4 linked regions of the Homo sapiens genome follow. The protein of the gene in region 1 interacts with the protein of each later gene in a pairwise test. Each region holds a gene or a part of one and is shown on either strand. Other genes may lie near its edges. The genes, in order: CAMLG, PKHD1, GET3 and OCIAD1.

The links.
Region 2: the proteins of CAMLG (region 1) and PKHD1 interact in binary tests that used the Homo sapiens proteins (3 or more experiments, as listed by UniProt).
Region 3: the proteins of CAMLG (region 1) and GET3 interact in binary tests that used the Homo sapiens proteins (3 or more experiments, as listed by UniProt).
Region 4: the proteins of CAMLG (region 1) and OCIAD1 interact in binary tests that used the Homo sapiens proteins (3 or more experiments, as listed by UniProt).

What each region holds. Positions count from the first base shown.
Region 1 is NC_000005.10:134,733,738-134,741,547, forward strand, and holds the start of CAMLG (guided entry of tail-anchored proteins factor CAMLG), read left to right. Parts: upstream 1-4,810; 5' UTR 4,811-4,883; coding exon 4,884-5,055; intron 5,056-7,325; coding exon 7,326-7,786; intron 7,787-7,810. UniProt on the Homo sapiens protein: Required for the post-translational delivery of tail-anchored (TA) proteins to the endoplasmic reticulum.
Region 2 is NC_000006.12:52,021,531-52,028,662, reverse strand, and holds part of PKHD1 (fibrocystin), read left to right. Parts: intron 1-311; coding exon 312-507; intron 508-766; coding exon 767-834; intron 835-2,481; coding exon 2,482-4,089; intron 4,090-5,718; coding exon 5,719-5,862; intron 5,863-7,132.
Region 3 is NC_000019.10:12,740,365-12,747,496, forward strand, and holds part of GET3 (ATPase GET3), read left to right. Parts: intron 1-5,012; coding exon 5,013-5,161; intron 5,162-5,244; coding exon 5,245-5,395; intron 5,396-6,832; coding exon 6,833-6,940; intron 6,941-7,030; coding exon 7,031-7,132.
Region 4 is NC_000004.12:48,826,059-48,834,146, forward strand, and holds the start of OCIAD1 (OCIA domain-containing protein 1), read left to right. Parts: upstream 1-5,029; 5' UTR 5,030-5,043; coding exon of another isoform or gene 5,044-5,083; 5' UTR 5,084-5,191; exon of another isoform or gene 5,192-5,463; coding exon of another isoform or gene 5,464-5,473; intron 5,474-6,561; coding exon of another isoform or gene 6,562-6,566; coding exon 6,567-6,624; intron 6,625-7,342; coding exon 7,343-7,423; intron 7,424-8,088. UniProt on the Homo sapiens protein: Maintains stem cell potency. Increases STAT3 phosphorylation and controls ERK phosphorylation. May act as a scaffold, increasing STAT3 recruitment onto endosomes. Involved in integrin-mediated cancer cell adhesion and colony formation in ovarian cancer.

The sequences.
Region 1 (7,810 bases):
GCAGTGAGCCCCGTTGGAGCCACTGCACTCCAGCCTGGGCAACAGAGGGAGACTCTGTCTCAAAGAATAAAAAAAAGCATGGGGACTGCCTGAGCAAGGGAGGCCAGAAACCTTAAATTGCCACTCTCCTAGAGTAGCAGAAATCCTCATCAGTGTCACCCTGGGGTAACATCGGAGAGTAACATTATCCAAGGAGCCAAATGATTTTGTCCCAAACCACGGCAACATCCACACATTTATATTAACTTTTTTTTTTTTTTTTGCGACGTAGTCTCCCTCTGTCACCCTGGCTGGAGTGCAATGGCATGATCTTGGCTCACTGCCACCTCCACCTCCTGAGTTCAAGCGATTCTCGTGCCTCAGTCTCCCAAGTAGCTGGGACTACAGGCGTGTGCCACCATGCCCGGCCTGTTTTGCAGTGTTTATAACATACTAAAAGTTAATATAGGCCCGGCGCGGTGGCTCACGCCTGTAATCTCAGCACTTTGGGAGGCCGAGGCAGGTGGATCACCTGAGGTCAGGAGTTGGAGACCAGCCTGGCCAACATGCGGAAACCCCATTTCTACTAAAATTACAAAAATTAGCTGGGCATGGTGGTGCGCGCCTGTAATCCCAGCTACTCAGGAGGCTGAGGCAGGAGAATAGCTTGAACCCAGGAGGTGGAGGTTGCACTGAGCCGAGAGATGGCACCACTGCACTCTAGCCTTGGCGACAGAGTAAATAAATAAATAAATACTGTAAAACAAAATATTCAGTACCATCTAAAATTACATTTATTTCATGAGGTTCATTACTTGGCTTTCAGTTTGTTATACTAAGCTCCATTCTCATTAAGGAGAGGACTATTGACATGTCTCCTATTGAAACTGTTAATTCACTCTGTTTCTTTTAAACTTTGAGTGTTTAAGGGTGTTTAACAACTATACTTGAGAAAATTATTGAAATAAAATTTCTGGCTGGGTCCAGGGGCTCACACCTGTAATCCCAGCACTTTGGGAGGCTGAGAAGATTGGATTGTTTGAGCCCAGGAATTTAAGACCAGCAACATAGAGACCCCATCTCTACAAAAAATTTTTTTTAAAAAATTATCTGGGCTCGGCCGGGGACGGTGGCTCATGCCTGTAATCCCAGCACTTTGGGAGGCCAAGGCGGGCGGATCACGAGGTCAGGAGATCGAGACCATCCTGGCTAACACGGTGAAACCCCGTCTCTACTAAAAATACAAAAAAAATTAGCCGGGTGTGGTGGCCGGCGCCTGTAGTCTCAGCTACTTGGGAGGCTGAGGCAGGAGAATGGTTTGAACCCAGGAGGCGGAGCTTGCAGTGAGCCAAGATTGCGCCACTGCACTCCAGCCTGGGCGACAGAGCAAGACTCCATCTCAAAAAAAAAAAAAATTATCTGGGCTCAATCCTGTAGCCTTAGCTACTCAGGAGGCAGAAGCAGGAGGATTGCTTGAGCCCAGGAGTTCAAGGCTGTAGGCTGCAGTGAGCTATGATTGTGCCCCTGCACTCCAGCCTAGGCCATAGAGTAAGACCCTGTGTTTATAAAAATAAAAATTTGACTCATTATGGAATTTAGAGGAAGTAATTTGCTAATTTCTGAAAATTGTTCTTGAATTTCTTTTAAGCAGTTTCATCAATTCATTCTTTTACTCTTTTTCTTTTGAGACAAGGTCTAGCTCTATCACCCAGGTGGTTGTGGAGTGATGCAATCATGGCTCATTGCAGCAAACTTCCTGCCTCGTTTTAAATTTTTTTAAATTTTTTGATTTTTTTTTTTTTCTAGAGACGAGGTCTCACTATGTTACCCAGGCTGGTCTTGAACTCCTAAGCTTAAGCAGTCCTCCCACCTTGGCCTCCCAAAGCGTTGGGATTACAGGTGTGAGCCACTGCGCCTGGACTCTTTTTTTTTGTTTTTCTGAGACAGAGTTTCACTCTGTCGCCCAGGCTAGAGTGCAGTGGTGCAATCTCAGCTCACTGCAACCTCTGCCTCCTGGGTTTGAGTGATTCTCCTGCCTCACCCTCCCGAGTAGCTGGGATTACAGGTGTGTGCCACCATGCCTGGCTAATTTTTGTATTTTTAGTGGAGATGGGTTTCATCATGTTGGCCAGGTTGGTTTCGAACACCTGACCTCAAGTGATCCACCCACCTCAGCCTCCCAAAGTGCTGGGATTAAAGGTGTGAGCCACCGCACCTGGCCTCCCGATCTCTTTTCTTTGTTTTTAAATAGAGAAGGGGGTCTCACTATGTTGCCCAGGTCAGTCTTGAGCTCCTTGCCACAAGTGATCCTCCTGCCTGGACCTCCCACATGCCAGCCCAGACATTTTTTATAATTCTGTTCAAGTTCAGTTATACGGCTTCCTCAGTTTCAAGGAGGAATGAAATATTACTTGGAAATAATTTGCTTGATGCTTATATCATTGAATATAACACTATAATTCTAATTTAGCTCCTCAAACCCTTTCTGGAACCGTCTTGATTGATCAGGGCTGTGCCTCATCAAATTCTGCACATTTGTTACTATTTGACAGTTATTTCCATTATTTTCAGTTGTGTGTAAAATTGTTTTAAGGAAGTCTAGGGCTCAGAGATCTATGTCTGTGCAGATATGCAGAAGAACTTCCTCTAATACTTTAAAATTATTAACTAGTGGATGTCCCTGGGATTTAACTTTCATCCAATCAAGGGTGAAAGTTCAGTCTGTATATTCTTTGAGCTCCTTATGTTGTTGAATCCAAACCGAAGTTTCTTTTGTTTTCACTTCTTTTTCAGTATTAATATAAATATAGTATTTTATTATCTTCTAAGTGGTATTTCACCCACTTCCTTATTTTGAGGGTGATTGTGTGGCAGGCTTAGTTGCAGGGGGCCCACCCAGTAAGCTGCTTCAAAACCCTCCTCAGCCTCAGGTGTGAACTGGCCATGCTCCCTGTTAGCAAGGGTTGATGGATTCAATTCCTTCATTCATCTAATCATTCACTTAGTAAGTCATTACTGAATGCCAAGGCTGCATTATGACTTTCAAGGGCCCTAAGCTCTTTTGCCTTTGTGGCTCCTTCCTGCCTGAAAACATACTTAAAATTATATTTTATGACTGTATTGCTATTAATGATGACTATAATCCAGACTGGATCCATTACAATATAGCAAATATATTATTTTTTTCTGAAAAAACTTTTTTGAGATGGGGTCTCACTGTGTCACCCAGTCTGGAGTGCAGTGGCCCGATCATTGCTCACTGCAGCTTCAACCTCCCCAGGATCAGGTGATCCTCCCACCTTAGCCTCCCAAGTAGCTGGGACCACAGGCACACGCCACCAAGCCCGACTAATTTTTGTATTTTTAGTACAGTCAGGGTTTTGCCACGTTGGCCAGACTGGTCTCGAATTCCTGGCCTCAAGTGATCCACCCATCTCAGCCCTCACAAAGTGCTGGAATTACAGGCATGAGCCACCGCGCCCAGTCATTTGTTCTGATTTTATTTTATTTATTTCTTTTATATATGTATTTTTGAGACGGAGTCTCCCTCTGTCGCCCAGGCTGGAGTGCAGTGGCATGATCTCGGCTCACTGCAATTTCTGCCTCCCAGGTTCAAGCGATTCTCCTGCCTCAGCCTCCCAAGTAGCTGGGATTACAGGTGCATGCCACCAGGTCAGGCTAATTTTTGTATTTTTAGTAGAGACGGGGTTTTGCCATATTGGCCAGGCTGGTCTCGAACTCCTGACCTCAGGTGATCCGCCTGCCTCGGCCTCCCAAAGTTAGGATTACAGACGTGAGCCACCGCTCCCGGCCTTTTTGTTTTTTTCTTTTCTTTTCCTTTTTTTTTTTTGAGACGGAGTCTCGTTCTGTCGCCCAGGCTGGAGCATCTTTAGCATGCGAGGTGGTCATGAACGACAAGGAGAAAAAACAAGGTGAAGGGGAATGGGGAGTGTTGGCAATTTAGATAGAATGTGCACGAAAGGTTTCAATGGGAAATTCTAATTTGAATAAAAACGCACAAAACGCGAGGAAAGCCTAGGAACACATCAGCCGTATACTTTGCCGTAGAGAAGTTAAGGATGAGGAACAGGCACCAAGAACAAATCCCAGCGTAAGGCTCCCTTTAAGTGCGGCTCCCAGGGTTACGTATTCCCATTGCCTACAGGCGAGGCCGCGGGTCTGTAAACAAGCGACTGCCGCTGCAACCTCCATTTTGCTTCCTGGCACCAAATCTAGGCTGACCTACTTACTGCCATCCCTTTCCCACTCCCGGTTTTCTTTTCTTTCTTTTTTTTTTTCTCGAGACAGAGTCTCGCTCTGTAGCCCAGGCTGGAGAACAGTGGCGCGATCTCGGCTCACTGCAACCTCCGCCTCCTGGGTCCAAGAGATTCTCCTGCCTCAGCCTCCCGAGTAGCTGGGATTACAGGCGCGCGCCACCCCGCCCGGCTAAGTTTTTGTATTTTTAGTAGAGACGGGTGGGGGGAGGGGGGAGGGGGTCACCATGTTGGCCAGGCTACTCTCGAAATCGTGACCTCGTGATCCGCCCGCCTCGGCCTTCCAAAGTGCTAGGATTACAGGCGTGAGCCACCACTCCCGGCCCTGGGTGCTGGTTTTCTTCACCTCCGAGTGAACAGCAGAGGGGGCTGTTGGGTGAGGGCCAGAAGAGTTGGGGAGGCACGAGGGCGTCCAGCGCTGCCCTCACTCAAGATGGCGGCCAGAGCCTCGCGCTTGGTCGCGTGGGGCGGTGCGTGAGTGCTTAGCTCACAGGCTCCGGGACCGCGCTCGGGGGCGGGTCTATAGTGGGAAGGGGACGCGCGCCCTGCGGCCCGGCCTCTAGTCATCGCCCTCGCAGCGGCGGCCAACATCACCGCCACTGCCACCCCTCCCAGACTGTGGACGGGAGGATGGAGTCGATGGCCGTCGCTACCGACGGCGGGGAGAGGCCGGGGGTCCCAGCGGGCTCAGGTCTGTCGGCTTCCCAGCGTCGGGCGGAGCTGCGTCGGAGAAAGCTGCTCATGAACTCGGAACAGCGCATCAACCGGATCATGGGCTTTCACAGGCCCGGGAGCGGCGCGGGTAAGAGCCTCGATTTCCCCTCAGTCTCCCGCCCATCACCTTGAATCTTCAGGGTCATTCTTCCCTCTCCCACCTCCACTCCTCTGACCTTTTTGACCAAGCCTTGCTCTTTGATTTCCTCTCTGTCCCGCCCCTTCGGTGATATCCCAAGTTCTCATCCCTGAACCCCAGGATGTTCCTAGTCGCTCCCCTCAATTTTCCCGGGGCCTCGCCGTGAGATTTTCCCCACCCTGCCTGCAGAGCTCTCACTCCCTCTTCCCAGTTACGTTGAACAGCCCCTTTTTTCCTTAGCCACTCCTCGCCTTTCTTGAAGGGCGCACGTTGTATCCCCAGACTGTCATGTCTACTGCTCCCCTTAGGAAGATGGCTTTCCTTCTTAAGGTTCCAAGTGCTTTTCCTTACAGTGCCTTCTCTAGCGTCTACCTTCTTTTGCCTTTTGCTGTGTAACTCCTGTCCGCCCACATCAGCCTGTCTTTACTGAACTGCCCGCTAGTTCATCCTACGTGTATCAGGGACTCTTGTGCTCATATCCTAGTGTTTGTGTTCAGTGCCGTCAACACTGTCACCTACGGGCCGGCTAGAAAAGGTGGGAAAAGTGAGAGTGAGCATTCTTCAGAGACCCAGCAAGTGCGAAGTGCACACCTGAGAGTTTCCTCTCCTCATGAGGGGATATTGTTGTGATTGATGTCTGGAGCTGCATTTCTAAGGAGAGCGCCTCCTTCCTCCCCCAAACACATGTCCAATGATTTTCTTTAAAAAAAATTTATTTCACGTGAGTATAATTGAGCAATTAGCGCGCCCTAGTGTTATCTAAGTTTCCAGTGTTTCCTTTAGTAATTGGCCTTTAGTCACTGGTCGCAAGCTCCTTATATCTTTGTGACTTTTGTTCTGTAAGGCTTTAGGTGTATAGCTCTGAACTTTTAGGCAGTTCAAATGAGAGGTAAGAAAACCATTTCAAATTCTTCTAGAACAATAGAAGAAACATTTTTCTATCGGGCTATTTATTCTTAAAGCATTATTTATGATCTTACCTGAGGTACTTTCTATATTTTGTTCTTTTGCTTTGAAAATTTTATGTCTTTAAAGGTTGTTTTATTTTTTGAGACAGGGTCTCCCTCTGTAGGCCAGGCTGGAGTGCAGTGGCATGATCATAGCTTACTGCAGCCTCAAACTCCTGGGCTTAAGCAATCCTGCTACCTCAGCCTCCGGAGTAGCTAGGACCACAGGTGTACACCACCATGCCTGGCTAATTTAAAAAAAAATTGTGTGTGTGGAGATGGGGGGGTCTCACTATGTTTCCTAAGCTGGTCTGGAACTTCTGGGCTCAAGTGATCCACCAGCCTTGGCTTCCAAAAGTGCTGGGCTTACAGGATTACAGGTGTGAGCCATTGTGCCTGGCCTTTTTTTTAAAACAAAAACAAAAACAAAACCCCAGAGTAGTGTCTTAAAACTGCTGAAGTGCCTACTAATGGCTGCCTGACTACATAAACAGTAGCTTTGGGATATGCCACACCCTATGCTCATAGGGCACTGGATTCAGAAATCTAATTTTAAAATATAGATTTTAAAAGGCTTTACTGATTTTATATTTTTAACCAAATAAGCTAAGGCAGGCAATGCAATCATACATCTGGGATATATTATCCATAAAAAGTTGGTCTTTTCAGCTTGCTCCATCTCTGAATATCTTTCCCAGTTTGTCTACTAATCTTATCTCCTACCCACAAAGTTTGGGTTATTTCCTCTGCAGAATATTCATTTTGGGTGATACATTTTGAGGGTGTAGAGGAAGAATCCAGCTTTTTTCTTTTTTTTGTTTTGAGATGGAGTCTCACTCTGTCGCCAGGCAGATGCAGATGGAGTGTAGTGGCGCAGTGTCTGCAACCTCCTCCCCCCGGGTTTCAAGTGATTCTCCTGCCTCAGCCAGAGTAGCTGGGACTATAGGCAGCTGGGACTACAGACACACGCCACCACACCCAGCTAATTTTTGTATTTTTAGTAGAGACGGGGTTTCACCATGTTGGCTAGGATGGTCTCAATCTCTTGACCTCATGATCCGCCCGCCTCAGCCTCCCAAAGTGTTGGGATTACAGGCGTGAGCCACGGCACCTGGCCGAAACCAGCTTTTCTTTAATGCAGAATCGGTATTTATTTATTTTGATGCAGAGGCTGCTGAGTTCTAGCTGCAACAGCATATTTTAAAACATAAACATGTAAGGTGTTTGCCAGTATGGAATAAATACATAAGGCTTTTACATTTCTTTTCTCAGAAGAAGAAAGTCAAACAAAATCAAAGCAGCAGGACAGTGATAAACTGAACTCCCTCAGCGTTCCTTCCGTTTCAAAGCGAGTAGTGCTGGGTGATTCAGTCAGTACAGGAACAACTGACCAGCAGGGTGGTGTGGCCGAGGTAAAGGGGACCCAACTGGGAGACAAATTGGACTCGTTCATTAAACCACCTGAGTGCAGTAGTGATGTCAACCTTGAGCTCCGGCAGCGGAACAGAGGGGACCTGACAGCGGACTCGGTCCAGAGGGGTTCCCGCCATGGCCTAGAGCAGTACCTTTCCAGATTCGAAGAAGCAATGAAGCTAAGGAAACAGCTGATTAGTGAAAAACCCAGTCAAGAGGATGGAAATACAACAGAAGAATTTGACTCTTTTCGAATATTTAGATTGGTGGGATGTGCTCTTCTTGCTCTTGGAGTCAGAGCTTTTGTTTGCAAATACTTGGTAAGAAAAGATCTGTAAATTATT
Region 2 (7,132 bases), on another chromosome or scaffold:
GCACATGCCTGTAATCCCAGCTGCTTGGGAGGCTGAGTTGGGAGGATTGCTTGAGCCCTGGAGGTTGAGGCTGCAGTGAGACAAGATTGCACCACAGCACTCCTGGGTGACAGAATGAGACCTGTCTCAAAAAAAAAAAAAAATAGTTGTTAGAAGTTTCTTGAAAAATTTAGGTTGGTATCGTAACTCTTAAGAGTATTATGCATAGGGGTGACTGTGAATTTAATCCAAAAAGACAGTTTTAGAATTGAATAGATGGTTGAGCCCACAAACCCCACATGTCAGAGGCTATTGGATTCTTCTCAACACAGGCGGTGAGACCCTGGTCATTGGAGTGGCGAGGCTGATGAACTATACGGATTTGGATGTGGAAGTCCACGTCCAGGATGCCTTGGCTCCGGTTCACACACAGTCGGCTTGGGGCCTGGAGGTGGCACTGCCCCCACTGCCAGCTGGTCTCCACAGAATTTCCGTCTCTATCAATGGGGTCAGCATTCACTCACAAGGGTGAGGTGACCACTTGCATTAATTTTGGATTTGTTTGATGGTCTAGCATTCAGCTAGGTAATTCTAATTTTGAGTTAGGTATTTTCTTTTTCCCTTGGAAGTTAGAGGTTAAAGACATGAACATCATAACATTGGAACAAATCTTAGAGAACTTACAGACAGTTTGCTCTTCTCCTCAAAATACATATGGCTCTTCTGGCTTACTCTTTCTTATCTCTCTCTGTCAGTTATTTCCTAAACATCTGCCTATCTTCTGTAGGGTTGATCTCCACATCCAGTACCTCACAGAAGTTTTCAGCATCGAGCCTTGCTGTGGGTCCCTGCTGGGTGAGTGGCTCTTATGTGACTGTTATCAATTATCCAGCAATTCTATTTGCTGGATATTCAGATTTTGTTTCTGGATTAATTTGCCAGTGAGGTCAGAGAGAGGGGAAACAGGAGAGAAACTTTCCTCGGGCTCCAGGAACTGAGGGGTGTTTTTAAAAGGGTGTTAAAACTTGGTGATTCATTTGCTCAGGAAATTAAGGAATTTTTATGACAAGGAGATGTGCCTGCTTTTCTTTTCTTTTTTTTTTCTTTTTCTTCTTCTCCTTCTTCTTCTTCTTCTTTTTTTTTTTTTTTTTGAGACGGAGTTTCGCTCTTGTTGCCCAGTCTGGAGTGCAATGGTGCTGACTTGGCTCACTGCAATGTCTGCCTCCCGGGTTCAAGTAATTATCCAGCCTCAGTCTCCTAAGTAGCTGGAATTACAGGTGCCCTCCATCATGCCTGGCTAATTTTTCTATTTTTAGTAGAGATGGGGTTTCACCATGTTGGCCAGGCTGGTCTTGAACTCCTTACCTCAGGTGATCTGCCCACCTCGGCCTCCTAAAGTGCTGGGATTACAGGCATGAGCCACCGTGCCCAGCCGAGATGTGCCTGCTTTTCTAATGAAAAGAGGATGAAACGTCTGATGGGTGACACTCTAGAGTGGATATGAGAAAAACAAGGGCAACATGTCCTGCATTCGCCATTTAGATGCTGTGCATGCAAGGAGGGGAGGATTGAATCTGCGGGTCTTCACTTTCCATGAGAGAGACAGATGAAAGACTCAGAAATAGAAACACACATGCTGATATGGGAGATGGAAGAACAAGACAAATAGACCAATCTCTAAAACTATTTTCAGAAAGAATGGAAAACAATCTAGTGGCATGTCAATAATAGTTGTGATCATGTGTAAGATAGCACATTATCCTTTTTGGGTATAGTAAAATCCTCTTAAAAGCCACGTTGTACAGTTTGGTTATGCTGTGGGTCATGTTGCTCCAATCCTGTCCTGAAGATGGGGTTTGATCTTTGGTGGCCTCTCTACTGGAGAGTAAGGCAAAGATTCTATGAAGGTAGCAGCAAATTCACCAGCAAGATTCAATGACTTTTAATGTCTCTCACGTATATGGAATATAGAATATATGGTACAATAAATAGAATATATTAGAATGTATAATATATGGAATATTGGAATATTATATAGAACAATATAAATGATAGAAGACTTCAATGAATTTGATTTTTCATTAGCATATAAGTTGAATGTATACAGGACAATGTACAAATAGTCTATATATAGCATACAGGATAATATTTCCAATAATATAATACATGATAAGAAGACTAAGAAATTTGATTTTTCATTAGTGTGTAAGTTGATTAAAGTGGTGGCTTCTGGGATATACAAAGGTACTTGAAAAGTTTGTGTTGAAGACGTCCTTCCTATATAACAATTTGTATTATTTTACTGTTATGTGAATTTACCACATCTGACTCCTGTCTAAATAATCACAAATTTAGCTTTGGTGGGGGTGAGAAAAAATAATTGAGGTTTCACTAACACATGCCCTACCTTCCACTTAATTGACCTAGGACTTCCACAGGTGCTATGAATTCTTAGTTCAGAATATCAGCTATAATATTTTGCTTTCCGTATTCATACTTTAGGAGGGACCATCCTCAGCATCTCAGGAATAGGCTTCAGCAGGGACCCAGCTTTGGTTTGGGTACTTGTGGGCAATCGGTCCTGTGACATTGTGAACTTAACGGAGGCGAGCATCTGGTGTGAAACCCTGCCAGCCCCCCAGATACCCGATGCGGGCGCTCCCACTGTTCCAGCTGCCGTGGAGGTCTGGGCTGGCAACAGGTTCTTCGCCCGTGGTCCTTCACCAAGCTTGGTGGGGAAAGGCTTCACCTTCATGTATGAAGCGGCAGCAACACCAGTAGTCACTGCCATGCAAGGAGAAATCACAAATAGCAGCCTGAGCCTGCATGTGGGAGGAAGTAACCTCTCCAACTCAGTCATCCTTCTGGGGAACCTGAACTGTGATGTTGAGACACAGTCCTTCCAGGGCAACGTGAGCCTGTCTGGATGCTCCATCCCTCTTCACAGTCTGGAGGCTGGCATCTATCCTCTCCAAGTACGTCAGAAGCAGATGGGATTTGCTAATATGTCTGTGGTGCTCCAGCAATTTGCAGTGATGCCTCGGATAATGGCCATCTTCCCATCGCAGGGTTCGGCATGTGGTGGGACCATACTTACTGTGAGGGGGTTGCTTCTTAACTCTAGAAGGAGGTCAGTTCGGGTTGACCTCTCGGGTCCTTTTACTTGTGTGATTTTGAGTTTGGGAGACCACACCATTCTCTGCCAGGTTAGCCTGGAGGGTGACCCCTTGCCTGGAGCTTCCTTCTCCCTGAACGTCACAGTCCTGGTCAATGGGCTAACCAGCGAGTGTCAGGGGAATTGCACTCTTTTCATAAGGGAAGAGGCAAGTCCTGTCATGGATGCCTTGTCCACAAACACCAGTGGGTCTCTGACCACTGTGCTGATTAGGGGTCAGAGGTTAGCCACCACAGCTGATGAGCCGATGGTATTTGTGGATGATCAACTTCCTTGCAATGTAACTTTTTTTAATGCAAGCCACGTTGTGTGCCAGACAAGAGACTTGGCCCCAGGACCCCACTACCTGTCAGTTTTTTATACAAGAAATGGGTATGCTTGTTCTGGTAATGTTTCCAGACACTTCTACATTATGCCCCAAGTGTTTCATTATTTTCCTAAGAATTTCAGCTTACATGGTGGAAGCCTCTTGACCATAGAGGGCACAGGCCTGAGAGGACAGAACACCACGTCAGTCTATATTGACCAGCAGACCTGCCTGACGGTGAACATCGGTGCTGAGCTCATCCGGTGCATTGTTCCCACAGGGAATGGCTCTGTTGCCCTGGAAATAGAGGTAGATGGACTTTGGTATCACATAGGAGTCATTGGTTATAACAAGGCCTTTACCCCAGAATTGATCTCTATTTCTCAGAGCGATGACATCTTAACCTTTGCAGTGGCCCAGATCTCAGGAGCTGCAAACATTGACATTTTTATAGGAATGTCACCCTGTGTGGGTGTCTCTGGTAACCACACCGTTCTTCAGTGCGTGGTCCCTTCCCTTCCGGCCGGGGAGTACCACGTCAGAGGCTATGACTGCATCAGAGGGTGGGCCTCATCTGCCCTGGTGTTCACCTCAAGAGTTATTATTACAGCAGTGACGGAGAACTTCGGTAAGTCAAGCAAATAAGACAGCACACTTTCTTTATGTAAATGAATTGGTAGCTCCTTTCACTTCTGGAAAGTAGAAAATTAACACAATCTGCCTGATGGAAGGAAAGAGAAGCCCACTGGCTTCTTACAATCCCAATTCCTTCCTGAGGCTTGTCTTTGTTATGCTCTGTTTATGAAGATTTTTTTTATTTTTATCAAGGAAACTGTGCATATTCTCTAAATGTTTGATTGTATTTTAATTTGATGCATTAACTGGATTTGTATTTTAAATTAAATAACACCATTTGTAAGAGCTCATAATTTGATCATTTAAGAACGTAAATGCCTTCACCTAGTTTTAGACCCTATCTGCCAATTTGCGTTGTTTAAAATTTATTAAGTATGATTAAATTTTTATCATTTTGTAATATTTCACAGGTGGACTCATATTTCAACAATAATAAGCCAAATGCACAGAACAATTAAATTGGTTGGACTGTTTTCTCCGTTTAGATATACCAAAAATTGCCTAGCCTTTCCCTCCAGTGAAGAAAAGCTTTCAATTTCTATTCACTTAAAGCCTTGTTGCACTTGAGATAGTTCAAATTTGGTTGTGATTTAGAAAGTAAGGAAAAAAACTATAGAAACAGAATCTTAGACTGTTGGAGTACTAACTAAGACATTTCTTAGAAAAAATTTGGTCTCAGCTTGGTGGAACACTGTGGGGACTAGGATTTGGCTCTAGTCTATCACTAATTTTGCTAATTTATGCTTGACTTTTCTGAGACTCAGCTTCCTTATTTGATAAAGGCACTACTCCCTAAGATTCCATGTTTTTTTATGATGGAAGAGCAGGGAAATAAGAAATGCATCTTAAACCAAAAGCATTATTTTTGAGTTAGTCAAGTGGCTAAGTACCACCTAGACCTGGTATGAAGGCAGTAGTGAGGGGAACTCTGTATCTCAGTGTAAACTAGAAATGTGGACTGGTTTTACTCATACAAATGTCCCAAAACATGTACAGTTATTGCATCACTATTAACAATAGCAAAAGAGGAGAAAAAATGGAAATTTCAATAAATAGGAAAATTGTCAAATAAATTGTAGCAGGGCCCTATAATGGAATTCTAAGTAGCTACTAAAATGAACTGGATCCATAGAGTTTTGAAAAAACATCTATGCTATACTTTGAAGCAAAAAAGCAAGTTCCAGAATAATATGGATAGAATAATGCTTTGAATCAGAAACATAGATGCTTAAAAATTCTGGAAGGAGCCATAAGAAACTCTATACCTGGGTACCTCCGGGGAGGGAGTCAGATGGTTGGGGGAATTTTTATTTTCATTTTATGGCTCTTTGAATAAAAAGTTTAAAAACTATAAATAAGCATTAATTTTCCATATAAAAATTGTTACATTAAAAAAAAACCTCTTTAACACAATAGGATATTGAATGTGATTGGAGTCAGACAAGGCCAGAGCCTAAGTGGAGAGGAAACTGAGGCCAGCAGCCACCTCAAGCCAGTTGTGCGGATTCTGAGGATGTGAAAAGAAGAATGGGTAGTGAGGAAGCAAATGTTTGAATTTTGAGTTGAGTAAAGAAGGGAGATTTGCCTGTATGATCAAGAACTTGTACCTTTGTCTTTAAAGGCTGCCTGGGTGGAAGGCTGGTGCATGTGTTTGGAGCGGGATTTTCTCCAGGGAATGTCTCAGCTGCTGTGTGTGGTGCTCCCTGCCGAGTCCTGGCTAATGCTACAGTGTCTGCCTTCAGCTGCTTGGTTCTGCCCCTGGATGGTGAGTAAAGATGCCACACACATATATTTTAAAGCATATATATGGAAATGATATTCTTTGGTTAATTCTATTTTTGTGATTAATGCTGTACTGACTACTAATTTCTCTATGTGTGCCTAGGAAAAGAATTTCTCTACTCCTCATCTAAAATGATAGTTAGAATCTGAGGCCACCTGTTAAAATGATTCATCATAACTTTTGTCATATTAATATGTCAATGTTAGATGAATATTGAAACACTTATCACCTGTGTTCTTAACTGCAGTCTTAGGATGACAGAGGAAGTAATTCTGAATTCTGAATATTAGTTTCAATGACAGCTATAGGAGTCATGGAGGAAACAAGCTCTTGGCTTTGTTCTGAGGTGAGGTTGCTGAAGACATCTGCTTATTGGAGGTACCAGTAAAGGGATGGAGATTTTCAAGCTGGATATCACTTGAAAATTAGCTTTGTGTGTTCAGTTTTCGGTTTCTTATTATAGGCAAAAGAGCCAACACTCATGTTGTCTTCTTGTTTTGCAATACTCACATAATTACTTATTTCTTATTCAGTAAAACACCACAATTGCTCACTACTTTAAGCTGCGTAGTGATCATATAAATTGTGGTATGAGAAGCCGTGTCTTTGTGGGGAAAGAGATGAGAGAGTAAGTTGCAAAGCTTGGGGATTCACAACACATGGTAATACCCCACTGAGCTTCAGGAAATAAAGTCAAAAGGAAGAAATTACTGTTATTACTACAGGACCTTACTACATTTGAGATAGCTCACATTTAGCCAGGTGATTACCTTATTTGCCTAATCATAAATCTTGTACCTGTGCACTTAACCGTTTACATACCTCCTTTCTGTGTAGTGTTTAAGTTTTATTCCTAATTTATTTGTCTGCAACTTGAATGTGGGCTAAAGATTTACAAAATGATAAAAGCACCACATCATCTGAGCTTGGATGAGAATTTAATGATGGATAATGCTATTGTGATGGAAATTTGTGCTGTGTTGTCTTATACAAAGAGGAGAAGGAGGGGAAGGAGGAGGGGGAAGAGGGAAGAGGAAGAAGAAGGGGAGGAGAAAAAAATTTTTGTTAAAATGCTAGAAATTGAGTTTCCTATTATCATCATGTATATAAACACATTATGGAAGAGAGATAGAGTCCACAATGGGAAATTTAAGATACAATAGAAGATTGAAGTTCAAAACATTGTCTGATTCACTGCTCTACCTCCTCTGCTAGGAACAGTGTTGCAGAGGGTATGTGCAAAATTAGTGCT
Region 3 (7,132 bases), on another chromosome or scaffold:
AGCAACACTCTGTCTCAAAAAAATAATAAAGGCCGGGCACGGTGGCTCACATCTGTAATCTCAGCACTTTGGGAGGCTGAGGCGGGCAGATCACAAGGTCAAGAGACTGAGACCATCTTGGCTAACACGGTGAAACCTCATCTCTACTAAAAATACAAAAAAATTAGCCAGGTATGGTGGCGGGCACCTGTAGTCCCAGCTACTCCGGAGGCTGAGGCAGGAGAATGGCGTGAACGCGGGAAGTGGACCTTGCAGTGAGCCGAGATCGCGCCACTGCTTTACAGCCTGAACAACGGAGCGAGACTCAACAAAAAATAATAAATAAAAATAAAATAAAATAAAGAGATGCTGCAGAGTGAGGATGCTGGCAGAGGACAGTCCTCAGGTGGGATGAGCTCCATCCAGCATACAGACCCAGAACTTGGGCGCTGCCAGGGTCAGGGACTGGGAGGGAAACAGGAGGAATTGGGGCACTTCCCGGGCAGAGATGAGGGTGTTGGCAGCCAATGGCTTCTCTTTCTCACCAAGGAACAGGCAAGGGTCTCAGCAGTGAATGGGATAGAAGTTTGAGGAGGGAGAAAATACCACATAAACACTTATTAAGGTAGCAGGGGGAACCAGAATTGTCTGGATCATCAAGTGCCCATTGGAGATTTGTGTTCAGAAGAGGGGAGCAAGGGCGGGCGTGGTGGCTCATGCCTGTAATCCCAGCACTTCGGGAGGCTGAGGCAGGTGGATCAGAAGGTCAGGAGTTAAAGACCAGCCTAGCCAAGATGGTGGAACTCCATCTCTACTAAAAATACAAAAATTAGCTGGGCATGGTGGCTCACGCCTGTAATCCCAGCACTCTGGGAGGCCGAGGTGGGCGGATCACAAAGTCAGGAGATTGAGACCAGCCTGGCTAACAGGGTGAAACCCCATCTCTACTAAAAATACAAAAAGTTAGCCGGGCGTGATGGCGGGTGCCTTTAATCCCAGTTATTCGGGAGGCTGAGGCAGGAGAATGGCGTGAACGCGGGAGGTGGAGCTTACAGTGAGCCTAGATCGCGCCACTGCACTCCAGCGTGGGTGACAGAGCAAGACTCCATCTCAAAAAAAAAAATACAAAAATAAGCCAGGCACGGTGGCTCACGCCTGTAATCCCAGCACTTTGGGAGGCTGAGGCGGGCAGATCACCTGAGGTCGGGAGTTCGAGACCAGCCTGACCAATATGGTGAAACCCCGTCTCTACTAAAAATACAAAAATTAGCCTTGCGTGGTGGCCGGCACCTGTAGTCCCAGTTACACGGGAGGCTGAGGCAGGAGAATTGCTTGAACCTGGGAGACGGAGGTTGCAGTGAGCCGAGATCATGCCACTGCACTCCAGCCTGGGATACAGAGCGACACTCCATCTCAAAAAAAAAAAATTAGTTGGGCCTGGTGGTGGGCGCCTGTAATCCCAGATACTCGGGAGGCTGAGGCAAAGAATTGCTTGAACCTGGGAGGCGGAGGTCACAGTGAGTCGAGATTGTGCCACTGTACTCCAACCTGGATGACAGAGCGAGACTCCGTCTCCAAAAGGGTGAGGAGCAAGATGGGAATACTCTTCAGGAGTGTTCGGCCCTCAAGTGCAGTGATACTAAAGAGCTAGAAAGCCATACCTATCATTTCAGTGCTTGCAGAGACTGAGACAAGAGGATCACGTGAGGTCAGGAGTTCAAGACCAGCCTGGGCAACAAAGGGAGACCCTTTCTCTACAAAAAACAAACAAAATTAGCTGGGCATGGTGGTGTGTGCCTATAGTCCCAGTAAGTTGGTAGGTTGAGGCAGGAGGATCATTTGAGCCTAAGAGTTTGAGGCTGCAATGAGCTATGTATGAGATGGTATCTTTTTTTTTTTTTTTTTTGAGACTGAGTTTCACTCTGTCACCCAGGCTGGAGTGCAGTGGTGTGATCTCAGCTCACTGCAACCTCTACCTCCTGAGTTTAAGCGATTCTCCTGCCTCAGCCTCCCAAGTAGCTGTGATTACAGGCGCCCGCCACCACATCCGGCTAATTTTTGTTTTGGGGGGGTTTTTTTTGTTTGTTTTGAGACGGAGTCTTATTCTGTCGCCCAGGATGGAGTGCAGTGGCGCAATCTCGGTTCACTGCAACCTCTTCCTCCCGATTTCAAGTGATTCTCCTGCCTCAGCCTCCCGAGTAGCTGGGACTCCAGGTGCATGCCACCATGCCCGGCTAATTTTTAGTATTTTTAGTAGAGACGGGGTTTCACCATGTTAACCAGGATGGTCTCGATCTCCTGACCTCGTGATCCACCCGCCTTGGCCTCCCAAAGTGCTGGGATTACAGGCGTGAGCCACCGCGCCTGGCCTGTATTTTTTTTTAGTAGAGACGGGGTTTCAACATGTTGGCCAGGCTGTTTTCAATCTCCTGACCTCAAATGATCTGCCTGGCTTGGCTTCCTAATACACTGGGATTACAAGTGTGAGCTACCGCGCCCGGCCAAGACGCTATCTCTAAAAGAAAGAAAAAAAAAGCTGGAAGTAACCAGAGTGGGGGATTTTGCCAACAGCAAGGGGAAAGGGAGTGTTTGCAGAGGGAACCTGTGGAGGCTGGGCTGGATAAGGGTGCCAGCCAAGAGGAACACTGACAGTTTACAGGGGCCAGGTGAGGGGATGAAGTAGTCCAAAGAAGCTTAAAATATATGAAGCATAAGAAGAGGGTGCAGTGATGAGTGGGCAAGCTCCCCAACAGGGAATGACCCCTAAGGCCAGCGAGTTGGGTACTTCCCCATGGGACCCATGAAGTTACCAAGAAGAGGTGACAGAGGAGGAAGATAAAGAGGGAGGCATTGGCCGGGCATGGTGGCTCATACCTGTAATCCCAGCATTTTGGGAGGCTGAGGTGGGTGGATCACCTGAGGTTGGGAGTTGAAAACCAGCCTGACCAACATAGAGAAGCCCCGTCTCTACTAAAAATACAAAATTAGCTGGGGTGGTGGCGCATGCCTGTAATCCCAGCTACTCAGGAAGCTGAGGCAGGAGAATCACTTGAACCCTGGAGGCGGAGGTTGCAGTGAGCCAAGATCACGCCATTGTCCAGCCTAGACAACAAGAGTGAAACTCCATCTCAGAAAAAAAAAAAATTACAAAAATTAGCCAGGCATGGCCAGGCGTGATGGCTCGTGCCTGTAATCCCAGCACTTTGGGAGGCCGAGGTGGGTGGATCACGAGGTCAGGAGATCGCCACCATCCTGGCTAACACAGTGAAACCCCGTCTCTACTAAAAATACAAAAAATTAGCCAGGTGTGGTGGCGGGCGCCTGTAGTCCCAGCTACTCACTGCACTCCAGCCTGGGTGACAGAGCGAGACTCCATCTCTTTTTTTTTTTTTTTTTTTTTTTTGAGATGGAGTCTCGCTCTGTCGCCCAGGCTGGAGTGCAGTGGCGTGATCTCAGCTCACTGCAGGCTCCGCCCCCTGGGGTTCATGCCATTCTCCTGCCTCAGCCTCCCAAGTAGCTGGGACTACAGGCACCCGCCACCTCGCCCGGCTAATTTTTTGTATTTTTAGTAGAGACGGGGTTTCACCGTGTTAGCCAGGATGGTCTCGATCTCCTAACCTCAGGTGATCTGCCTGCCTCGGCCTCCCAAAGTGCTGGGATTACAGGCGTGAGCCACCACGCCCGGCCAAGACTCCATCTCAAAAAAAAAAAAAAAAAAAAAAATTAGCCAGGCATGGTGGGGCATGCCTATAGTCTCAGCTACTCGGGAGGCTGAGGCAGGAGAATTGCTTGAACCCAGAAGGTGGAGGTTGTGATGAGCTGAGATCGCGCCACTGCACTCCAGCCTAGGCAACAAGATCAAAACTCCATCTCGGGAAAAAAAAAAAAAAAAGAGGGAGGCATTGAGTCTGAGACTGGCCAGGGACCCCAGCCATGGCCATCCCTTCATAGATTCTACATACATGTTTGTGTTTTGTTTTGTTGTTTGTTTTTTGAGACAGAGTCTCCCTCTGTCACCCAGGCTGGAGTGTAATGGCGTGATCTCGGCTCACTGTAACCTCTGCCTCCCGGGTTCAAGCGATTCCCCTGCCTCAACCTCCAGAGTAGCTGGGATTATAGGCACCCGCCACTATGCATGGCTAATTTTTGTATTTTTAGTAGAGACGGGGTTTCACCATGTTGGCCAGGCTGGCCTCAAGCTCCCGACCTCAGGTGATCTGCCCGCCTCCGCTTCCCAAAGGGCTGGAATTACAGGCATGAGGTACCGCGCCTGGCTGGATTCCCCATATGTGCTGACGACCTCTGTGCCAGGCACTGTTCATGCTAAGCGCTAAGGACACAGCAGTGAACTAGATGGTAAAACCCCTGCCCCTGAGGGGCAGACATTCCTGCTATGGAGACAGATGATAAACATGATAAGGGAATCATGAGGGATGTGAGGAAGGGCTAATTTTTTTTTCAGATAGGTCTTGCTATATTGCCCAGGCTGGTGTCCAACTCCTGGGCTCAAGCGATCCTCCCATCTCATTCTCCTGAGTACCTGGGACTACAGGCGTGAGCTATCCTGCCCAGCTCCTAAGGGCTAAACCTTAAGGAGAAAGGAAGGCAGGGCAGGGGTGTCGGTGGATCTGTGCTGTTACTTAGGGTGGTCAGGGAGTCTCTCAGTGGAGGGATGATGATCCGGAAGAGGTCATGGCCCAGTCATGGGAGTATCTGGGGTTGCAAGTGGCAGGTTGCAAGTGGGGAGTAGCAGTGTAAATGGCCCGCAGTGGGTTTCAGCTTCCCTTTGAGGGCCCTGGGCACAGCTTGCAATTTTCCCCTTGTTTTTGACCCTTTATGCAACCATACAAAACCCTAAGTACTACCTCAGGGTCCCCCCAGCCGTGACCTAATGAAATGCCTGTGGTCACAGCCCACCACAGGCTCCCTCTGGCCCTGTGCCCGGGTAGGAAGGCTCCCCCTGGCCCTGTGCCCAGGTGGGAAGGCTCCCCCAGCAGTAGCAGCAACCTCAGTCTCATCCCTTTGGCCCCCAGGAGATTGACCCCAGCCTGGGCGTGGCGGAGCTGCCTGACGAGTTCTTCGAGGAGGACAACATGCTGAGCATGGGCAAGAAGATGATGCAGGAGGCCATGAGCGCATTTCCCGGCATCGATGAGGCCATGAGCTATGCCGAGGTCATGAGGTCAGGCCCAGCCAGCAGGGGTGGGGGCTGCCTGGGGAAGGGGAAGAGCGGACACAGAGGGCCTGACCCCTGTCTCCCCTCAGGCTGGTGAAGGGCATGAACTTCTCGGTGGTGGTATTTGACACGGCACCCACGGGCCACACCCTGAGGCTGCTCAACTTCCCCACCATCGTGGAGCGGGGCCTGGGCCGGCTTATGCAGATCAAGAACCAGATCAGCCCTTTCATCTCACAGGCAGGCGGCGGGGGCCCCCACCTGCACCATCCAGGCAGCCGGGAGTGGGAGTAGGCCCGGGCCCCCAGACCCTCAAATGCGCACTAACAATTCCCTTTCCTTCCCACCCCTTCTCACTCTGGACTTCTCCCTGGAGGGGATGGGACGGAGCTGTCTTTCCTCCCCCACAGGCAGGACTCAGTGTCCCTGCCCCTGCCCGCTAAATACCCTAGACAGAGCCAGAAAGCACATTCCAGAACCAGGCAACCTGCCTTCAAACCCTCTACACTCACCATGTGACCCAACTGCTGTGTGACCTCAAGCAAATCACTTCACCTCTCTGGGCCTCACCTTCCTTGTCTTGCAAATGGAGATCATGAGAGTGCCCCATGGGTTATTATTATTATTATTCGAGACGGAGTCTCGCTCTGTCACCCAGGCTGGAGTGCAGTGGTGCGATCTTGGCTCATTGCAACCTCCACCTCGTGGGTTCAAGTGATTCTCGTGCCTCTACCTCCCAAGTAGCTGGGACTACAGACATGTACCACCATGCCCAGCTAATTTTTGTACTTTTTGTAGAGATAGGGTTTTGCCATGTTGCCCAGGCTGGTCTTGAACTCCTGGCCTCAAGCAGTACACCCACTTCGACCTCCCAGAGTGCTGGGATTACAGGCATGAGCCACTGTGCCCAGCCCCCATGGGTTATTATTACGATGACAACCCTAAAGCCCCCACAGTGCTGCACACCACCAGCACCACCCACCATGGTGTATGTGCACGTGTGGGTGTGTGCGTGTCCCCTGTGGGGACCTGTGCCTCAGGTGGTAACACTGAGCACTTACTGTGTGCCAGACACTATTCTCAGCACATTATATGCTTCAGCTCATCTGGTACAACAGATCTGGGAGGTAAAGTTTAGAGATGGGGAAACTGAGGCTCCAGGAGGGTCAAGCCCCTTAGCTATGGTTCCCTAAAAATGGCAAAGCTGAGGCCGGCCGCAGTGGCTCATGCCTGTAATCCTAGGACTTCGCAAGGCCGAGGCAGGTGGATTGCCTGAGGTCAGGAGTTCAAGACCAGCCTGGCCAAAATGGTGAAACCCCACCAGTACTAAAAATACAAAAATTAGCCGGGCATGGTGGTGCGCGCCTGTAATCCCAGCTACTCAAGAGGCTGAGGCAGGAGAATCGCTTGAACCCAGGAGGCGGCGGTTGCAGTGAGCCAAAATCACGCCATTGTACTCCAGCCTGGGCAACAGAGTGAGACTCCATTTCAAAAAAAAAAAAAAAAGAAAGAAAGAAATGGAAAAGCTAGTATTTGACCAACCCCAGGAATCTGCTTATGGGCCTGAGCCTTTAACCACTGGGAGGTATCAGGAGTCATCCCTCGGGTGTTTAGTGAACCCCCAACCCAGGAGGTCGCCGCAGGTAAGCTATGAGCCCTCCCACATCCCCCCTGCAGATGTGCAACATGCTGGGCCTGGGGGACATGAACGCAGACCAGCTGGCCTCCAAGCTGGAGGAGACGCTGCCCGTCATCCGCTCAGTCAGCGAACAGTTCAAGGACCCTGTGAGTGGTGGTCTGGCTGGCGGTGAGAGGCCCGGGGGCTGAGGACAGGGGCAGACCCCGCCCCTCACTGTCCTCTCTCGTGCCCTGTAGGAGCAGACAACTTTCATCTGCGTATGCATTGCTGAGTTCCTGTCCCTGTATGAGACAGAGAGGCTGATCCAGGAGCTGGCCAAGTGCAAGATTGACACACAC
Region 4 (8,088 bases), on another chromosome or scaffold:
AACTCCTGACATCAAGTGATCCGCCCATCTCAGCCTCCCGAAGTGCTGGGATTACAGGCATGAGCTACTGTGCTTGGCCTCCCTCCTATATTTTCTTTTTTTTTTAAATTATACTTTAAGTTCTAGGGTACATGTGAACAACGTGCAGGTTTGTTACATATGCTTACATGTGCCATGTTGGTGTGCTGCACCCATTAACTCATAATTTAGCATTAGGTATATCTCCTAATGCGATCCCTCCTCCCTCCCCACAACCCACAACAGGCCCCAGTGTGTGATGTTCCCCACCCTGTGTCCGAGTGTTCTCATTGTTCAATTCCCACCTATGAGTGAGAACATGCGGTGTTTGGTTTTCTGTCCTTGCGATAGTTTGCTGAGAATGATGGTTTCCAGCTTCATCCATGTCCCTACAAAGGACATGAACTCATTCTTTTTTATGGCTGCATAGTATTCCTGGAATACTATATTTTCAATTCTTCTCTTTAGTGGTTCTTTCCCTTTGCCAATTACAATTAAAAGCCTATGGAATTAAAAAACAAAAACATTGAGGTAATGAATATGCTAGTTACTCTGATTTGATTATTACACACTTACATATTTCAAAATATCATGTTGTACCCCATAAATATGTACAATTATTATGTCAATTAAAAATCATAAAAGCAAAAACCCAAAACAAAAAATAACCTTCATCCATTTTTATTTTTTCCTCCAGCTACCACTCTATCTTGCTTTCTCTAAACAGCTAAACTTCCAGAAAGAGTAATGTACACTTTTCCTCACATTATCTCCAATCACTCTTTTCTCAACCCATTGTAATCTAGATTTTAATAAAACTACACTTGCAAAAGTTATAAATAACCTTTTTATTGCTGCATGTAATGGATAGTTCTCCATCCTTACCAGCATTTGATATAATTGACCATTTCTTCCTTCTTAGAAGATTCTTTTCCTTTGGCTTCTATGACACTACATTTTGAATAATAAATATGTGTTAAACTAGATAGTCTGGTGAACTAATAAAACACAAGTTCTGCTCTAATGGAACATAAATAGAAATATGCTGAATAATAATTTATTGAATAATGATTGCTTGAATAATCGCTGAATAATTATCAATTATGGAAGTTCAAGCGTTCATTTGAAAATAAATCTTTTATTGACACTGAAATGAAGTAGAAGTTCACTACATTGATTTCATTTATATACATTAATGAGTATAAATTATCCCTTTATTATTAATTTTTTTAAGTGATGTCTAATAAGTGGAAATTTCTTATGGTACATTTCATTAGATCTTAACTCAATGGAGGTATCATGAAGACTGTTGATTTAATTTAATCCAGGTGGATCGATTTCTGGTGATCTCACCATTCCAGATTAGAACACATTAGTCTGAGTTGGCTAATAAATCCTACAGCCCATCTCTAGCAAATGTGTATCGACTTCCCGCAAGTCTTTGGATCTTGCCCAATTTATGTTTGAATTCTTTGATTGTTGCATTACCCAAATTACCAAAAGACTCAATAACCTCTAAATGCCAGCACAAATGCAAAGTGACAGTTTACTTGAATGTTTTAGAATCCTATATGTTCCCACAGAAGGAGCTCATAGTCTTTTATCAACAGAAACTCAATTTATTGATTAATTGCTGAGAAATTAGGGGGCAACAGAAAATAGACTTATCAATCTACCATGTGCTATTGCAGGCACGTGGCGTGGGACTGGCGGGTAGCTCCACCTGCAGCCCCGGCATGGGATCCACTAGGTGAAGCCAGCTGGGCTCCAGAGTTGGGTGGGGACTTGGAGAACTTTTATGTCTAGCTGGAGGATTGTGTATGCACCAATCAGCACTCTGTGTCTAGCTCGGGGTTTGTAGATGCACCAATCAGCACTCTGTATCTAGCTACTCTGGTGGGGACTTGGAGAACTTTTATGTCTCACTAGAGGATTGTAAATGCACCAATCAGCACTCTTTGTCTACCTAAAGGTTTGTAAATGCACCAATCAGTGCTCTGTGTCTGGCTAATCTAGTGGGGACTTGGAGAACTTTTATGTCTAGGGAAAGGTTTGTAAATGCACCAATCAGCACCCTATGTCTAGCTCAAGGTTTGTAAATGCACCAATCAGTGCTCTGTGTCTACCTAATCTAGTGGGGACTTGGAGAACTTTTGTGTCTAGCTAAAGGATTGTAAATGCACCAATCAGCACTCTGTGTCTAGCTCATGGATTGTAAATGCACCAATCAGCACCCTGTCAAAATTGACCAATCAGCTCTCTGTACAATGGACCAATCAACTCTCTGTACAATGGACCAATCAGCAGGATGTGTGTGGGGCCAGATAAGGGAATAAAAGCAGGCCTCTTGAGCCAGCAGCGGCAACCCACTCAGGTCCCCTTCCACACTGTGGAAGCTTTGTTCTTTTGCTCTTTGCAATAAATCTTGCTGCTGCTCACTCTTTGGGTCTGCACCACCTTTATGAGCTGTAACACTCACTGTGAAGGTCTGCAACTTCACTCCTGAGGCCAGTGAGACCATGAACCCACCTGGAGGGATTAACAACTCCAGACGGGAGGAATGAACAACTCCAGATGCACCGCCTTAAGAGCTGTAACACTCACTGCGAAGGTCTGCAGCTTCACTCCTGAAGCCAGCAAGACCACGAACCCACCAGAAGGAATAAACTCCGAGCATGTCCGAACATCAGAAGGAACAAAGTCTGGACACACCATCTTTAAGAACTGTAACGCTCACCGTGAGGGTCCGCAGCTTCATTCTTGAAGTCAGTGAGACCAAGAACCCACCAATTTAGGACACACTATGTGTTAGGCCTGGCTCAGTAAGTATAAAGAATATGATAAAACTGGATTCTGGAATCTTACAATCTAGTCAGGAAGCAAAGAAAAAGACTTTGCTTTAAAGTTGGTGCAGTGGCTCATGCCTATAACCCCAGCACTTCGGGAGGCCAAAGTGGGCAGATCACTTGAGGCCAGGAATTGGAGACCAGGCTGGTAAAGTAGTGAAACTCTGTCTCTTCTACAAATAAAAAAATTAGCTGGGCGTGGTGGTGCACACCTGTGGTCCCAGCTACTCAGGAGGCTGAGGCACAAGAATTGCTTGAATCTGGGAGGCGAAGGTTGCAGTGAGCCGAGATGGCACCACTGTACTACGGTCTAGACAATAGAGCAAGGCCCTGTCCTAAAAAAAAAAACAACAAAAAACTTTGCTTTAACATAAAGCTCACCACCTAGAATGTCTTCTAATTTTTTTATTTTTGTTTCTTCTAGAATGTCTTTTAATTTTCTTATTTTTGTTTTTTCTCCTATAAAAATGCATTCAACAAATTCATTTAAGAAATATTTGTTGGCTTCATATGATCATGTGCCAATCACTGATGCTAGGCAAATACGGCTCCTACTGTCATAGACCTTTTTAGTGAAGAGAGACAATACACAAACAAATCATTGTTTTAGACCATAACAAATACTATGAAAACAATAAGCAAGGTAACATGGAGAGTGACTGGGGTGCCATGTTAATTGGGTGGTCAAGGAATGCCTCTCTGATGTGGTGACATCAACTGAAGTCTCAGACAAAAAGCCACGTTGAACATCTGGAAGAACAGTGGTCTAGAAGAGGGAACAGCAATTGCACAAGCCCTGGGCCCAGAAGTAAATTAGCTTGTCCCAGGAACAAAATGAGTATTAGTTACTAATACTGATTATCTCAGGGATTTATTTGGTTCTATAAAGACTTACAAGCCAACATCTCTGTCCTAAAGGAGCTCTGTAACAGAGACAGACGTAAGTAAAAAAGATCACTATTCAGTGCAAAAGTACATTGCAGTGACAGCAGTATGGACAAGCTAAGGACTAAGAAGGAAGAGTGATTACTTCTCTGGGGTGTATTTCAGGGAAGGCATCACAAAGGTGGTGATGTAAAAGCAGAATTTTGAAATATCGTTAGAATTGACAAAGCAGGGAGTAGAGTTGTACTGGGGAAACAGTGCACAGAGAACACTGAGGGCAAAGACCTCCAGGCTGTTTCTTGTTAGTGAACCCTGAAATAGAAGAAAGTGACGCTCAAAAGGCACAGGCACCACCAGGCCATGATGGGCCTTATATTCGGTGCATGACTGGAGCTATCAAAAGACTCCAAGGAAGGAAACACAGCGTTGGATTCGTTTCACGTGACTGTCTCCCTTAAGTATGTCTTCGGGAGAATAAATGTTAAATGATAAAGTGGCAAAGGGGCTCAGAAAGAGATGAGAAACCTGAGAGGCTTTGAGGGGTTGACAAATAGTAGGACTGGATTTGCCCACTGTTTAGTCACTAATAACTTGCAGTACATGGCACTAATAAATACTTCAGGAAGGAATGTATGAAAATGAGTAAAATGCTGATTGGCTGGGTGTGGCAGCACCATGTCTGATGTGTAGAAGTCGTGAGCCCCCTCATTAATAGACAGTGATGTGTTGTTTTAATTCTAACAACCCTATATGTAATTCCACTTTTCAGGTGAGAAAAACCGTAGCCTCAGAGAGATCACGGTACCCTGCCAGAGGTTGTAGAACTTGTTGGAAACTTGGATCAAGAGGGTGTGACAAATAACCAGGTATGCATGCTTAAAAATTACTTTCTACTACTTAGCCTACAGGCTCAAAGAATGAAATTATCTCATAAAAGAGATAATTTATAAAGTCGCTCTCAAAAGAGGGACAACAGAGGGTTCCGGAACGTTCCCGCCAGCCGCCACGAGAAGACCAGAGAGGTGCATCACAACAGCCCAAAGTCAAGCCTACTCCCAACCCCCTTCCCCGCCATCCAGGGAAGGGGCGGGGCAGGGTTCTTGGTCCGCCGCTGTCGCCTGCGCAGTCGCAGTGCGGCTCGTGGCCGCAGCTGCCTGAAAGGGCAAAGGGACGAGTATACGCATGCGTCTATTCCTAGGCTGCTGGCTCTCAGACCCGCAGTGAGGTCTGACGTCATTTCCTGCCGTAAGTATACAGTGCCTCCGGGTCGCGGTCATTTTGAGCCCCTGTCTGGATGACTTCTTGCGGCTGTTCTACCCCTCCCCCTCCCCGCGGTACCTTGCACTTTTCTCCCTCCCTGCCCCCTCTCGAGTCCACCCTCCGGGCCTTCTGCCCCTGATCGCTTGGTTTTCCTTGCAGTCGCCTGCTGCTGTCGTCGGGAGGTGGGTGAGGTGACGCAAACAGCCCCGTTGTTGCCCTCCGCGTATCCCCTCACCACCTTTGCGGCCATCCACGACTTTCGCACCTTCCGCCATTTTCCTGCCTGTGAGGGTGGACAGATCGCGCTCGGGTCTCGGCCTCCTGAGTGCCGGTGACTGCGGGAGGCGACGGAGTGCTTCTGGGGGTGTGAGCTGGGGAAGTTCGTGGTCACGGATGCGTGTGGGGTTGCTGCTCAGTCTGTAACGGCAGGTGGGAGACGGACACTGGGTGGAGGATGGAGTGCGGTAATCAGCGGTTGTAGGCCGCTTAGGCTTTAATCCAGCGTTGTTTTGTGTAAAGAACTTAAAATGGTATTGTCTTAAGCGCCGTGTCAGCCCTGACAGTCTTCCTGGTGTTTCTAGGAAGGATGCCGTTATGGGAAATAAGAGGGTTTCATTTTTTCTCATACGGTTGTAGGGTAAAGGTAGTTTATTCAGCAGGCTCCATCCATCCATGAATTCAGCTGACCTTTTTTATTTCTTTTCTCTAATTAAGGGGTTGGCATGTAGTAGGCCTTCATGGCTTATTGACTGAATGAATTATGGAAGGGCTCAGTTGCTGTCCTCATTGTGTATGCCATTTCCTGTTTCCATGCAAATTGTTTTTAAAATGAGAATAATCATGATCCCACGTAAACGTTCTGTAAAATACGGTTACTTGATCTGTTGGTCTGAGTCCCAATATATGAGTTTTTAAAAAAAGAACCAAATAAAAAATGTATATTCTTGGAATTTTATGCATTTTTTTCTTATATTCTTGGGGTGGAAGGAAATTTGGAGATACAGAATTTGCTGTTAGTTTTACCTCACAGGGAGAAGGATATGTCGTCTTTGTTATTCCATAATTTTGGAGTGCTCCTTTGTGGGAGAGGTTGAATGTTTCTGATGATTATTTCATTTTTTAATATGGAAGCTCAGAAATGACTTGAAATTTTTTTTCTCTTCTATTTTGGGGAATTATCCTAATCATTGGGCATAGATTCGAGAAACGACCAAAACATAGGATGTGAAAGAACCCACTTCCAGGAGGAAAAAATATGTCTGTTATTTTATTGATATCTTGATAGTAAAAAAAATTATAAACTTATAAAACGCATATGCTTTTTCAATTAAGGGACTTAACCTGAATAGTGAGTTCCAAATTAATCAGTAGGTCTGTTACTTTTTCATCTAGCTATTTACATGTGGAGTACGTAAGATATAGTAGTGTTTAATAAATATTTGTTGATTGATTGCTGTGTAGACTAGTAGTTTTACTATATCATACGTCTTGATTTACTTTGACCTATCTAGTGATAGTTTCTAATACTTAATATGTAATGTTTTTGATACAGGAAAGATGAATGGGAGGGCTGATTTTCGAGAGCCGAATGCAGAGGTTCCAAGACCAATTCCCCGTAACTATCTATTAAGTATTTATAATTAGAAGCACTTCCTATGTAAAGGAATTTTCACTGCCTTGAGTAACAGTGGCAGGTGGGCTGGCTTCATGGGCATGTGCAGACAGCGCCCCATACTTGGTTTCATGTTCTAGTCTTGTTATCTTGAAATTCATAATCATTTGGATAAGGAGTCCCACGTTTTTATTTTGCACTGGGCCCAGCACATTAGGTAGCCAGTCCTGACTAGCAGATAGTAGCATTAATTCTATTTGAAGTCAAAGTTTGTTGAAAGTGTATAAGTGGCCTGGCTCGGTGGCTCATGCCTGTAATCCCAGCACTTTGGGAGGCTGAGATGGGTGGAACACCTGAGGTCAGGAGTTCGAGACTAGCCTGGCTAACATGGTGAAACCCCGTATCTACTAAAATACAAAAAATTAGCCTGGCGTGGTGATGGGTGCCTGTAATCCCAGCTACTCGGAAGGCTGAGGCAGGAGAATCGCTTGAACCCCGGGAGGTGGAGGTTGCAGTGAGCCGAGATCGCGCCATTGCACTCCAGCCTGGGCAACAAGAGTGAAACACTGTCTCAAAAAACAAAAAAAGTGCATAAGCCAGTTGTTTTATTATTTGAGTTTAAAAAATGGGTGCCTCTTGTTAATGTTTAGGCTAAGATAATTTTTCAGACCTAGTTTTATTATGGATAATTTAATGTTTTCTGATTTTCCCTGGTAAAAAGACATAGGGCCTGATTACATTCCAACAGAGGAAGAAAGGAGAGTCTTCGCAGAATGCAATGATGAAAGCTTCTGGTTCAGATGTGAGTTCAATTTTCTAATTAATATAATTTGATCCAAAATTTGTACCTGAAATTTTGACTTGAATTTGAACCTGAAATTATAATAACTCCGTATAGAACAAATTGGCAAACTTTTTGCATAGTGTGGTTGTTGTTAAAAGAGATTAAGGAGATAAAGGAATTGCACACATTTTAAAGTAATTATTTCCAGATTTTTAACAAAACCATGAGGTAATTTTGTTGATAATAGTAATAGTTAGCATTTACTGTGTGTACATAGATTATATAAAAACAACCCAATAAGGTTGATAACTATTATTACCCTCACTTTACAGGTGAAGGAATTGAGGTTTAGAGATGTTAAATGGCAACACTTAGTGTTACACAGGTGATAAATTACGATGTTTGGAGTTGAAAACAGGTCTGTCTGAAACAGATTTTACTCTTAATGCTTTTAACCATTATATAATAGCAGATTAGTTCCCATTTTATCATTGTGAAATGTTGTTATACTACCAGCTCTTGATTTCTGATTAAAGAAATATATATATATTTGTGTATATATATATATCAAGATTGTATTTTTTAAATACAGAGATTGTTGGAAGCAGTATACAAAATATACTCTCACTATTTAACAAAGAATTGGTATTGCTTTACTTGGAAACTGTAGTCCTTTCAGGTAA